Homo sapiens: one gene and its partner. The protein of the gene in region 2 purifies or fractionates together with the protein of the main gene of each other region. This does not show direct contact. Each region holds a gene or a part of one and is shown on either strand. Other genes may lie near its edges.

Region 1 (7,000 bases), on a different chromosome or scaffold from region 2:
AGGCAGATCCTCACTGTTTTTTGTTTTTACCTCATGGGTTCACATGTCCACACAGTAACTTTTATAGACCCAGCTAATTCCGAAACTTAAGTATCCACAAGATCTAAGCAGAAACATTTAAGTCTGTTTTATAAACTTGCTCACCCTTCTGTATAGTTTAGAGACTGAAATAGAGAAGGACTAAGGGAGGGAAAAGTAGTAGCAGCTCAGTCCTAAAGACCTTTAAGTGGGAACAAAATAGCCTATCCCTGCAGTAGACCTGACTTGCCTATGGAGTGGGAAAAAAAAATTCACTATTAGTACTTTTGATACAATATTTTGGGGTAAGACATACAGTAAAATGATTATATAAGCATGGTCTCTGGAGACAGATGACTCAGGTTAAAATCCTGGCTCCAGTTACTTGTGTGTGCTCTCTTGAGCAAGTTTGTTCTCAGTTTTCTCAGCTATTACATGAGATAATAATAGTATGTATGTCTTAAAATTGTTGAGAATTAAACAAGTTAATGCATGTAAACACAGTTACATACTCAGTACCTGTAAGCTACAATTATTTACTTTTCAAAAGTGACATACAGCAGGGAAGAGGTTGGTGTAGTCATATATTAATGAGGTTACTAAAAACATTTTCAAAACCTTCTACCACACCGCCACAGACAGTACAATTGAAGGGTGATATCAATAGCATCAGAGACTCAAGTAATGGAACTGATAGGGACAGTATTGTGAGACTATGAAAGGAATCTCCACAGACTTCAAGATGAGAATTTAAAAATTTTAAATTCCCTCCCTAGCATATATGGATACTATAGCCCTATGGCAAAGTATCAAAGTAATTTATGCTTGTAGCCTCATGGGCTCATTAATATATAGCAGATGTGCTTTACTTACCAAGCTCTGGTTGTCTGGCAGCATGACAATGATCTGTGCGTTATGATCCCAAATCATTCGCCAGAAATCTTTCGTAGTATGTGGCAGAGGATGCTGAGTTATAATAAATTCATTGCTCCTATAATAGCCCTTCAGTTGGGAAGACAAAAAAAATCAGTGAATATGAGTGTTTTATTCTAACTTTGTGGTAGTAAAATATATTCATGAAATAAGATAGCACTGTTTTGACTACACTAAAATAATTGAGAAAGGCATTCGGTACATTTGGCTAATTTTTAGATGTACTTCTGCTAGCACTGTGCAGACAATTTTCTCTCCATGTGCAGTTCACTTCTAGTTAACCCTGCTGTTTTCACTTAAGGGAAATTTCAACATTTATTCAAAGACTAGATGTGTGAAATTAACAATAAAATTAATTCCTTAAGAAGCATTCTGCTTAATTTAAGCATTTTTGTACCAGCACTGATTAGGTATCTTTTGTTAAAAGTTTCAAGATACAGAAATCTCTATACTTTTCATATTACACATTGAGAAATTATTTCAAAAATGACATCAGTCACACAGGTGGTATCTGCTCTTTAACACCTTTCAGTTTAGTTGACTTTATTTATAATTAACTGTTGACTCTCACCATGATATAAGAAGCATTAATGTAATCTGTTCCTTTCATTCCAGGCAATGGTGCAAGACCCACTCGAGCACGCTCAGCTATCATATGGAAAAAACAAAAACACCACATTTGCCTTATTATACACACAGAACCAACAGCTCTTTCTGAGATTTGCTTGATGAATAACATATCCTCCTGGCTTCCCTTTCTAAGACTTATCTATATTTTTAAACAAGCTAAAGTGTTATCAGCTGAGGCAGAATGTAAAATGAAATTTTGCTGCACATACCCAGAAGGACACAGGCATTGTAGGAATACAGTTTTACTGTGGGAGAGATTTTTACAGCAGATCAATAACAGAATACTTTATATGGACACAACAGAGGATTTTAGATAACTTTTGACTCTAGTTTGTTATTCCTACAATTATACCAACATATACTTTGTCCTTTTACCAACCCCTTTCTCCATGTCTTTCTGCTCATGATGGTCTTAGAAAAGAGTGGCCTTTTTCATTAGAGATAAATCTCCCAAATGATCACCCATGTCTATGCCTACAGCACACAGACAGCATCCTCTGCAATGTCCTTAGCTATTTATACAAAGGTCACCACCAATCAACAGTGCCTTGATCTCAATAGCCACAGTAACTGAATAAGGTAGTTCTAGTTGTACAGATTAATCCAGGATTCTAAGTTTTAGAGGAATGTTAATGCCACAGCAATAACAGCTTTATTATTATTTTTTATGTTATAATATGGTAGAAGTAACCCAATTCTTGCATTCCAAGGTGAAATGAAGCTGTATTCTACGTCAGATAGATGGAGCACTTGCTGACACTGACAACCACCTCTCCCAGTTTCATTAAACTACCTTAGTTGAATAAGCATAACATTTTCCCTTTTGGTAGTACCAGGTAAGAGGCTGGTATAAAGTCATACATTAATGAGGTTACTAAAAGGACATTTTCAAAACCTTCTACCATACGGCCACGTACAGTACAATTGAAGGGTGCTATCAATAGCATCAGAGTAGTGGCTGCCTCTGTACCTAACATACAATCCAGTATAAAAGATCACTAACAAACTGTTTTAAAGTCTTACATGGCACAACTGAAGAGTTTCTGTTCTTTTCTTTGTTACACTCTTTCTGAGCACTGAAACATTCCACATATTTTGCATTACACTGTGTGACCAGCTGAAAAAGAAAAAACATTTTAGTCTTCATTCAAAGATATAATTGATAGCATTTGCTTGATGCTTTGGCAAAAATCCCAATCAGATTACTGATAAACAAGACCATTTCTGTGCCACAAAGAACCTTTTAAGACACAGGGTCTTGCTCTCTTGCCCAGGCTGGAGTGCAGTGGCATGATTGTAGCTCAGTTAACTGTGATCCTCCCACCTCAGCCTCCTGAGTAGTTAGGACCACAGGTGCATCAGCACAACCAGCTAATTTTTAAAATTGTTTATAGAATTGGGGTCTTCCTGTGTTTCCCAGGCTGCTCTGGGATTACAGGTGTAATCTACCATGCCCAGCCCCAGAGAACACTCTTGTGCTTTCCTAGTGGTACTTCTCTCAGTGACCTTGATTGTATCTTTCTTATTTCTACTATCAGGTAGAAATAGGTACTGTGTGCAATAGATATTTCTAGAACTATGTGGATTCTTCTGTTATGTGATGTCACTGCTGCTGTGAATTTTTTTCTGTGATCCTCACTGGCATAAAAGACCTACGTGAGTCTACATTAAAAAAGATTGCTTAATGCTATTGATTACGAGCTAATCAAGTTTCTTGAAGATAAAGGAGTACTTAACTAGTTCTCAGTACATTTCTGTTGAACTGAACTAACATTGTTCTAAGGCTTTTATAAGTAACCAGCCCAGTAGTTTGATTATTATTCCTGTTTATGTAGCTTGGTTGAACCATTTTGTCAATCCTATTTTTTGGGGGCTGGCATCCATCCTAATGGAGTATATGAGATCAGTGTTCTTCTCCAGATGCTTTAGTAAAACTCATGGTCCCTGGATATAATTTTCATTTTCAAGTTTGATTCTTGTTTTTTTCTTCATCTTGAGCTCTAAAATGGTTAGTGCCTGTAAAAGAACCAACTACCTGGTCGCATTTCTTAAATGAAGTTTTAAAGTATGTATAAAAAAAAATTGAAGAAACGAAAAAGGCAGAATTTAAGAAATGTTGGTACTTAATATTTTGTAAGAACTCATGTTAAACATTTAAAATGATACACTGTGTCCTCATTATTAATTATCTCATGGTTTTATAGTAGAATGTTAATGGGGAGCTAAAAATTTTTAATTTTATGACTGAACTCAGTGAAATTAAACTATTTTTCATTTCATATCACTTGGTATAATTTGCTTGGCAGTCTCATTTCTTCAGCTGAGATTCAAATGAAAGTTTCAGTCTATGGAAAGTTTTACCATGAAAACTAAAACTGTAGATTCATCTCATTCTTTGAATCTTGATACAAAGGGAGAAACTATTTACATACAGAACAATGTGCAAAATAGAATTTAAAAGACAAAGATAAATAGGAAAGCACTTGGTAACTGGAGAGACAGGCGATGTTTGAAAGTTAGAAGCAATTTTGATTTATTATCAGATGACTGAGCCCTAATTATTTTAATAGTCCTTATAATCTCTCTTTTTCACCTTCACTTCAGTCAATTCCATATAAACCTTAACCGCTTTTAAGCTTCTTCATGTCCCTATCAAAGAAAAAGAACAACCATTTAGGAAAAGTTAACTTTTCTCTAGTATTGTTTAGTAATTCTTTTTAAATTCCTAAATTATCTTCTGAAATAGTTTTTGAAATAGGCATATTTTTAGGACAATATGTCTACAAGTCATCATTCTTAATAATTAAGGTAAGATAGATTAGTTCAGAAAAAATAGGACATTTTTTGGACTAAACGAGTTACTTTAAAGTACTATGTCATTATGGCCAGGGGCTGATGTTTATATTCAGATAAAGTCATAAATTGCTCAGAAGAAAATACAACACTGTATATCTACTTGAATACCAACAATTCATACATAGGTCAAAACCGTATTTTCTTTTTCATCACATTTAAGGAGTACAAGGAGTACAAATAGTAATCCATTTCGGTGTATACATTAATGCAAAGAAGACATAACCCCCAAACTCAAGGCATTTAAAACATTTTCTTGCTTTATGCCAAAGAAACTTTTTCAAAGCACTACCTTGAATTGCTTTTCCAGTCGTGTCTTTCCTCCTACTCCTGGTATAAGGATGCTGTTAACATAGCTGTGCAGCTGATTTGAAGATACTTCAGTCTCCTTTCCAAGAATGGCTTCCAACAAGGCATCATGGATGAAAATGTACTGCTCCTAAGAGGTACAATACATGGTAGTCACTGAGGGAGTGTTAAGGGTTAGCCACTCATTCATGAAGTGTACCTTAGTTTAATTCTGCTGCTAACAGGGACCTCCCAGTGATTTCCTTCAAGCACTTACAGCTAGGTGATTTGCTCCAATACTCACTTTATCAGTCTTAACTTATTTTACGGTAGAGACTGTGTTAAGTTTAGCTCTGTATTCTATACTGTGCCTGGATCACGGTATTCTATACTGTGCTTATTGCTTCAACTCAATAAGCAAACAAAAAATCGTGTTCAATGAAGGGTTTTAGAACCATCCTCTCCTATGTATTTCTCAGGCCAGACAACATGTTTAACTCCCCCTACCATCTAACACAGCTCTTGAAACAACTGTATCTCTTTCGTAAGTACTTGTGTAGTTATTTAGGAATCCAAATGTTAAGATCCATACAGAAATGGAAAACTGTGATCCGTAGAATAGGATCATTGTCAGAATATCTTCTAATACAAACCTGTAAATTACTGCAAGCCCTAAAAGAATGAATCTGTCTCTTCATTATCATTTAACAAATTTCAGTTACAGCATTTGCCAGAATGTCGTGAGGACGCTGGCAGCTACTCCTTACCTCAGTCTGGACGAGGTAGTTACGCTGTGTCCTGATATGCTTCAGGAATCCCAGGACGTTAACTGTGCTTTTGTCTTTTATCTGTTGCAGCATGCTGTCTATTACAATATAGGTGCCTGTTCTGCCCACACCAGCACTGTAAGAAATGAAGACACTCAACTGGCACTTTTGTTTTATCATACTGTTAACTTTGGATTCGAAAAATTCCAATCTAAACCCCATTTATTTTATTATTTTTCTGAGATGAGATGGAGTTTCACTCTGTTGCCCAGGCTGGAGTGCAGTGGCGCAATCTCGGTTCACTGCAACCTCCGCCTCCCAGTTCAAGCAATTCTCGAGCCTCAGCCTACCGAGTAGCTGGGATTACAGATGTGTACCACTACACCCGACTAATTTTTTATCTTTAGTAGAGGTTTCACCGTGTTGGCCAGACTGGTATCGAACTCCTGACCTCAGGTGATCTGCCCACTTTGGCCTCCCAAACTGCTGGAATTACATGTGTGAGCCACCACTCCCAGCCTAAACCCCACTTAGATAACCTTAGATGACGTACGTTATTCACTTAGCATTGCAACATAAATCACAGAACAAGCGACATGTATTTGAGTACCAAAGTTTAAAACAAACAAAAAAGAGGCAAGAATGCATTTTCAAATGAAACAGAATAAAAGCATTTTTAAACAACCAACTAAAGTCATTTACTGTGGCTGACAAAAAACAAGCTTTATACAAGGATTTCCCAGTGCTTTTGAAAAGGTATTTTATATGGAACATTTAAACTAAAAATTTAAAAATGAAATATTTTCATATATACTATAAATATTGTTATTTAGAAGAACCTTTCAGAAAAGCCATTTACAAAAACACAATCTCTATTCTAGTGTGGAAAGTTCTTGTGTTTAACGTCATATTTTTATTTATTAGGATCAGGCTACAATTTTCCTATAAACAATGGGGATTTTGTAATTTTTTCTTTTTTTTTTTGAGTCATGATCTTGCTCTATCATCACCCAGGCTGGAGTGCAGTTATGTGAACACAGCCCACTGCAGCCTTGACCTACTGGGTTCAAGGGATCCTTCTGTCTCAGCCTCCCATGTAGCTGGGACCACAGGCATGTGCCACCATGCTGGCTAATTTTTTTATTTTTAATTTTTGTAGAAATGGGGTGTCACTTTGTTGCCCAGGCTGGTCTCAAACTCCTGGGCTCAAGTGATCCACCCACCTCAGCCTCCCAAAGTGCTGGGATTACAGGAGTTGGCCTCCATGCCTGGCTGATATTATTAATAAGAAGATTTTATAAAAACTAGGGATTGATCTAGTTTTTTAAAAATCACAGAAGCAGCAGATGATTTCTTAATGTTACAGGAATAGAGCCTCTTTAAGACTATCATAGGTCTTATCCATCCCAGTTTCCAGTGGAAGATTCAGCTTCTAAGTGAAAGCAGTAGCAATCATTGTGGTCCAAGGTCACTGAGGCCTAAGTCCCCTGCCCCATCTATTTCACATGTTG
Region 2 (7,364 bases):
AAGCTTTAATACATTCGGCTGTATTAAAATTAAAACTTTGGGCCAGAGGCGGTGGCTCATGCCTGTAATCTTAGCGCTTTGGGAGGCCAAGGTGGGTGGATCACCTGAGGTCAGGAGTTTGAGACCAGCCTGACCAACATGGTGAAACCCTATCTCTACTAAAAATGCAAAAATTGGCTGGCCATGGTGGCAGGTGCCTGTAATCCTAGCTACTTGGGAGACTGAGCCGGAGAATCACTTGAACCTGGGACGCAGAGGTTGCAGTGAGCTGAGATTGTGCCACTGCACTCCAGCCTGGGTGACAGACTCTGTCTCAAAAAAAAAAAAAAATTAAACATTTATATGTAAGAGCACAAATATACTCAAAGACAAAAAACTGAGGAGAATATTTATAACACATGATAGATAGCAATACTAATTTCTTTGTTTTATTAAAAAAATTACAAATAAAAAGAACAACTAATGGAAAAATTATATACAGAAAAATGCAAAGAATATGAAGAGAGCTCACAAATTAGAATATTCAAATGTTGGATATACACTGTATGATAAGTTGTGAGGAAACAAGAACTTTTATCCATATTGGTATATGTCTATATTGGTAAACTCTTGAAAGATAATTCTGTAATATCTATCACAGTGTTGTATGTTAAATGCCTATTAACAATTCTCCTAAGAATTTACCCTATGAATATACTCAGAGCATGTGAAACAGTCTAAAAATACACTATATGGTCCATCCGTACAGCGGAATATCCCACTATAAAGAAGAAAATAGGTCTGAGTACATCTCCCAGATACATGAGGAAAGAAAGGAACACTAGGCACAGTGGTATATATAGATTGTTCACACTTGTTTAAATTTTACAGGTATACAAAAAAATTGTTCTGGAATGCAGTAAACTAATTCTCACCTTTGAGAAGAGGGTCTATTTTGTCAAAAGTATTAGAATTGTTTTCATTTATCAAATTTTGTACTGTTTGAATTTTTTACCGTGTAAATTGCTTTTAATTTTAAATATTTTAAATTGTTTAATGTTATATTATTTGGACAGATGCTTCTTAGGCTAAAAAATCGTTATTGCTATTTTATCCTGTACAAACATTAAAGTTTGGTGTGTGTGTGCATGGGGTTTTTTCCTGTGAATTTTAATGTTGAGCTATTCATTTTGTCAGGTGATTGCCCATTGATTGTTCAGTTTGCTGCTAACGATGCAAGACTTTTATCTGATGCTGCTCGTATAGTCTGTCCTTATGCGAATGGAATAGACATTAACTGTGGTTGCCCTCAGAGGTAAAGCTCAAAGAAGTTGGAAGAATTTTCCAAAAGAGTAGAAAAAAAACTGTGTGAACATGGTAAAATATCTTTCTAGTTTTCCAAAAATTAAAAAGAAAATAGAGTTACAGTCCCAGGGCTCAAAACAAGAAGGAAGAAAATATAGGGAAATGTAATTTAGAAACATAAATTCAAAGGTCTTTTCTGATGACTGAAATGATGTATAGACCTTTGACAGGTGTTTTGTCTCCCCTCACCAATAGAATTTTTATGTGGCTGTGCCTTGAATCTCATCCCTAAGTAGTTATATGAGAATCTAATGTTTACGGCAATCCCTAAAATGTATTTTTACTGTCATGTCAGATATACTTGCTCTGAAAACAGATTGTTTGACTTAGGAAATCACCACATATTTCCTCCTAATTAATTCCCCTTATAAAAATACCTTATTATAATCACTTTTTCTTTCTATACCACAGTTACTTGTTTGGGTTTAAATAACTGGGTGTTGATAGGGTGTACTTAATTTGACAATAATATTTCTTTTTTTTTTTTTTTTTTTGAGACAAGAGTTTCCCGGGTTGGAGTGCAGTGGTGTGGTCTCGGCTCACCACAACTACCGCCTCCCAGGTTCAAGCGATTCTCCTGCCTCAGCCTCCTGAGTAGCTGGGATTACAGCCATGCACCACCACGCCAGGCTAATTTTGTATTTTTAGTAGAGACGGGGTTTCTCTATGTTGGTCAGGCTGGTTGCAAACTCCCAACCTCAGGTGATCCGCCCGCCTTGGCCTCCCAAAGTGCTGGGATTACAGGCCTGAGCCACCGCGCCCAGCCTGACAATAATAGTTCTACTTTACTGGCACTGTAGTAGATTATCAGTAATTCAAAATGTGTCCAAAGAATAAAAGCAAAGTTGTTAAGTATAGCGTAATCGAAATCAGATTAGACATATTTGTATACTCATTAGGAGGGTTAAATTAGCTGTTTAGTGGTATTGGAATGCTGTAAGCCAAAAATATCTTTCTACTATTGAGACTAATAAAACCTCTTGTTATGCACAATAAACATCAAATTTGGAATTTTTAAAATCTGAAGTCATTGCAATTACTTCAAATATTTAAACCTGTTTTGGTTGAATGACTTTTAACTTAATATTCTCACTTGCCAATGAAAACCATTTCTCCTGAGTACTTTTTGATCTGGGAACATGTTTTCCTAATCTCATATTGATCCACTTAGAAATGTTGAATCTATGAATTTTTTATATCTGCTTCTCTTCCAGATCACTAGAGAAATGGATGCACTTACATTTCAGTGCTTTCAGAATTTTGTCTTCTCTTCCAGTTATTTATAATTCACTTGTTCATGTGTTTGCTTTACAAAGGTGGGCAATGGCAGAAGGTTATGGGGCTTGCTTAATAAACAAGCCAGAGCTTGTTCAAGACATGGTGAAACAAGTAAGAAATCAAGTGGAAACCCCTGGATTTTCAGTTTCTATTAAAATAAGGTAAAGACAATATTTCAATCTATTGATAGGATAATCCATTACTTAGGAAATGAAAGATTATTGCTTTTGTCTGATGCTGTTGGGAGTATCTATCCTAAATAAATTGGTAGCTGGTGTATGGAAATGTTGAAAATAAGACATTTAGTAAAAGAATATATACCATAATTTTCATTTATAGTCCTGAAAAACTTCCTCTTTGTACTTTTAACAAAAGTTAAAGCCTCCCTTTAAGTTTCACCAAACTTTCAACTTTAGCTATGTAGTATTTAATGTTAAGAAACATTACTGGTGCCAAGTGTAGAAAATAGGAAAAATATTTGCACTAAAATTTCACAATGAAAAGAAAATAAACCAGGAATCAGTTTTTCCGTGACAGGTTGAAAACATATTTCTTTTTTTGAGACAGAGTCTCACTCTGTTGCCCAGGCTGGAGTGCAGTGGCACAATCTTGGCTCACTGCAACCCCTGCCTCCCAGGTTCAAGCAATTCTCATGCCTCAGCCTCTCAAGTAGTTGGGATTACAGGTGTGTGTCACCACACCTCGCTAATTTTTGTATTTTTTAGTAGAAACGAGGTTTCGCCACGTTGGCCAGGCCAGTCCTGAGCTCCTGGCCTCAAGTGATCCACCTGCCTCAGCCTCTCAATGTGCTGGGATTACAGGAGTGAGCCACGGTGCCCAGCCTGAAAACATATTTCAAGATAAAGTATTATATTCTCCCACTGGGGGATGGGGGCATGCACAGCAAATATTAAGGTTTAAATTCATCTGTGACAGTACTTTCATGGGTCTTTCATTTATCAAAGCCAAAACATAGAAGCACTAGGTCTAAGATAAAACTTGTTTTTTGTCCTTTGTTGTCAATAGTGAAATAGCTAAATTTGAGGTCTTGTGTAGGAACTGCTCCCTGAAGAAAACCTTGCTGATAATGACATAGAGTAATAATATGATATAGCAAAGCTAACTAATTTGGTAGATGAAATACCATTTTAGTCAGTTAATGTTAGCATTAAGATTTGTGTGCTGTGAACAGATAAATGTAATTTTGAAATTGTAGGATCCATGATGACCTTAAAAGAACTGTAGATCTTTGTCAAAAGGCTGAAGCAACAGGAGTTTCATGGATTACAGTCCATGGAAGAACTGCTGAAGAAAGACATCAGCCAGTGCACTATGATTCCATTAAAATAATTAAGGAAAATATGTCTATACCTGTAATTGCTAATGGAGACATCAGAAGCTTAAAGGAAGCAGAAAATGTGTGGCGGATTACTGGGACAGATGGTAAGAAATAAGTACTTGGGTTCTTTTAATTGGGGGGGGAAGAAATGAGAGTGGGGAAGTAATGTTAATTTGATTTTCATTTGTTTTGTTTAACATTAAGCCATATTTTCCCATTGTACTGTTTTAAGCTAAGCGATTTATTAAAATGATGTTAAGTTTTCTACCTAGAAAAACATGGATTATCTTAACTGGGATAAATTAATTCAGTTACTTTTCTGACACCATCATATCTAGTGACCAGTGAAGAATTTTCCAGATAGCCTACTAGTAAAATAAAGCACCTAGAAATAAGAGTAAGTGAACTCGAGAATGATAAGAGCTAAAGGAATCCCAGAACTGCTATGCAGTTTCATTATTCCCTTAAATTATTGGCATGCCAAGCCCTATAATTGCTAGATGGGAGAATATAGATAAACTGAACTTTAAGCAGCCCAATTTATGACAATCCAGATTTACCCTAAAGAAAAACTAAAGACTAATGGTTTAATGTAGAAATCTTTAAAAAATAAAGATTTCTGTACGTACATTTAAACTTTCCTGGTTTACAAAAGGTACCAAAATTAATTCTTTTGTAATCGGATTAAACATATTAATGCAATAAAGACATTACAAAACCTTGTGATAATACTTTTTAAAAATATACTGTTTGCTTCATTGAGCTTGAACTAATAACCAGGGGTTCTTAATGTATGGACAAATATGGTGTGCTTTAATTTGTAGGTGTGATGGTTGCAAGAGGACTCTTAGCAAACCCGGCCATGTTTGCTGGATATGAGGAAACCCCACTGAAATGCATCTGGGACTGGGTTGACATTGCTCTTGAACTCGGGACTCCTTACATGTGTTTCCATCAACATTTAATGTACATGATGGAAAAGATAACTTCAAGGCAGGAAAAAAGGGTATTTAATGCTCTGTCAAGCACATCAGCAATCATAGATTACCTTACAGACCATTATGGCATTTGACTAGACTTCCCAAATAATTTTAATATATACTTTTAGACCCACAGTGAAACCACAGAAGGTCATATTTTGTACCTTAAACCAGTAGCTCTCAAATTTTAGTATAAAAACAATTCCTGGGAGCGTTTTTTAAAAATCAGTTGTAGACACCACCCTCAGAGATTCTGATTAGGTAGATCTGGAGTAGACCCAGAAATACACAGTTTAAAGAAAACTCCCAGTGGTTCAAACATCCTGATCATCCTAGGCAAACATTGACAAATACTGCTCTGAATCCTGTTCTATAGATATTGGGGGGATGGGTAGAGTGGGAATTTTTTCCTAATCATGTTTTTAACATTTTAAAATAAAATTTAATACTAAGAAATTATGGCTTATAGTATCTATAAATTAACAAGAAGTATGCAGGTGCAAAAAAGTGGTGGAACAAATACCAACATCCATCCAAAATGAAAAAGAACAGGAAATTCTGAATAGAATTGCACTCAGAACTTATATTAAAAATTCCATTTGGTTAATGACATTAAATTTGGTACATTTCAAAACTTCTAGGTCCTCCAAAGATTGAAAGCTTAATAATCTCCTACCTAAAAAGATAAAATTAATTGCAATCTACCATATCTTAAGTATAGGAAATTTGGTGTCCAACCTGGAGATGATTATATATTTGAAATATTTCCTAGAGAATAGTAACCAGGTTTTGTTTTTAACTTTAAAACCTAATTACTTTTGTGCCTCTCAGCCGTTGATTGTAACTTTAAAGTCCCATGGTTTTGGAGTGTTATTAATAGATTTTGTTATCGGTGGGCATGCACTGCAAGAATTAAGTATCTCAGACTGAAATAAAACCGTTCATAATTAAAGTATTATTTTGTTTTGCCAACATGAAAACTGTTATAAGGAAACAATTATGTAAAACTGTTTAATTCACGTTTGGGAATATTGAATGAATCCATTTTAACATAAGCACTGTGGTGCCATCTTTTTTCTCAGTACATTCTGTTTTCACTTTTCAGTTAATGCATTTTTTTTTTTAAAGATAACTCGCTGTTTCATTTTCTATGAATACTGTACAAAATAGGGAGGTATGGTCAGAACTCTGAATTGAATTACCCTAGTGTTGTGAGCACAGCATCATCACTAGAGTAATGTGCTCGGTGTTTGGAAGGAACCAGCGTGGATGGGCAAGAAGTTCTAACACTTTTGATTAAAAGTAACTTCCTGGCCGGGCGCGGTGGCTCACGCCTGTGATCCCAGCACTTTGGGAGGCCAAGACGGGCAGATCACGAGGTCAGGAGATCAAGACCATCCTGGATAACACGGTGAAACCCCGTCTCTACTAAAAATACAAAAATTAGCTGGGCGTGGTGGCGGGCGCCTATAGTCCCAGCTACTCAGGAGGCTGAGGCAGGAGAATGGTGTGAACCTGGGAGGTGGAGCTTGCAGTGAGCTGAGATTGCGCCACTGCACTCCTGCCTGGGCAACAGAGCAAGACTCTGTCTCAAAAAAAAAAAAAAAAAAGTAACTTCCTGGCTAGGCGCGGTGGCTCACACCTGTAATCCCAACAGTTTGGGAGGCCAAGGCAGGCAGATCACTTGAGTCCAGGAGTTCGAGACCAGCCTGGCCAACATGGTGAAACCCTGTCTCTGCTAAAAATACAACAATTAGCTAGGCATGGTGGCAGGCGCCTGTAATCCCAGCCACTCTGGAGACTGGGGCCAGAGAATCACTTGAACCTGGGAGGCAGAGGCTACAGTGAGCCGAGATCGCACCACCACAATCCAGCCTGGGCGACATTGGGAGACTCCATCTCAAAAAAAAAAAAAAAATCTTCCTTATGGTTAATTTATGTTCAAAGTCTATTTTTCTATTTTTTCTGTTACATGTGATCCAGAATATTAGTGATAAATTAAGAAAAAGCACCAACTTAAATGTGTTTTTGAATGTTTTATATTCTATAATTATCAATTTTCAACATTTATTTACTATTCCCCAAATAATTGTTACCAGGATAGTACTTTTATTAAATTCCTGATACGTTGTCAATATTGAAAAAACTCAACAACTTAAATGTACACGCACAGTTTGAAAAGCTGGAAAATAGTGAAAGAATATCCCCATACCCACCTTTCGTACCAGTCCCCAAACATCACGGTAAAGTTTACTGTCTCTTCCCAGCCCATGGACGGGAACGGGAACGCCTACGGAATATGTTGTGACATACAGTTGATCCTAGGTTCTCCAGAACAAAATGCTGCACGACCACCTCATCCTGGCCCTTTATTAAATATAGCTTAATTCTGGACACAAACAGTTCCCACCATGAAGAGAGAG

Evidence for each region. Proteins that work in one complex are often made in the same cells at the same time.
Region 1: the proteins of DUS4L (region 2) and PTPRG purify together in Homo sapiens (affinity purification with mass spectrometry; 2 studies listed by BioGRID and IntAct, with this or other methods). This does not show direct contact.

What each region holds. Positions count from the first base shown.
Region 1 is NC_000003.12:62,271,571-62,278,570, reverse strand, and holds part of PTPRG (receptor-type tyrosine-protein phosphatase gamma isoform 1 precursor), read right to left. Parts: intron 5,626-7,000; coding exon 5,490-5,625; intron 4,874-5,489; coding exon 4,727-4,873; intron 2,699-4,726; coding exon 2,605-2,698; intron 1,600-2,604; coding exon 1,523-1,599; intron 1,021-1,522; coding exon 892-1,020; intron 1-891.
Region 2 is NC_000007.14:107,572,528-107,579,891, forward strand, and holds the end of DUS4L (tRNA-dihydrouridine(20a/20b) synthase [NAD(P)+]-like), read left to right. Parts: intron 1-1,176; coding exon 1,177-1,294; exon of another isoform or gene 1,295-1,356; intron 1,357-2,660; coding exon 2,661-2,783; intron 2,784-3,838; coding exon 3,839-4,065; intron 4,066-4,785; coding exon 4,786-5,033; 3' UTR 5,034-5,996; downstream 5,997-7,364. Other genes in the region: DUS4L-BCAP29 protein, read left to right, coding at 1,177-1,294, 2,661-2,783, 3,839-4,065. UniProt on the Homo sapiens protein: Catalyzes the synthesis of dihydrouridine, a modified base found in the D-loop of most tRNAs.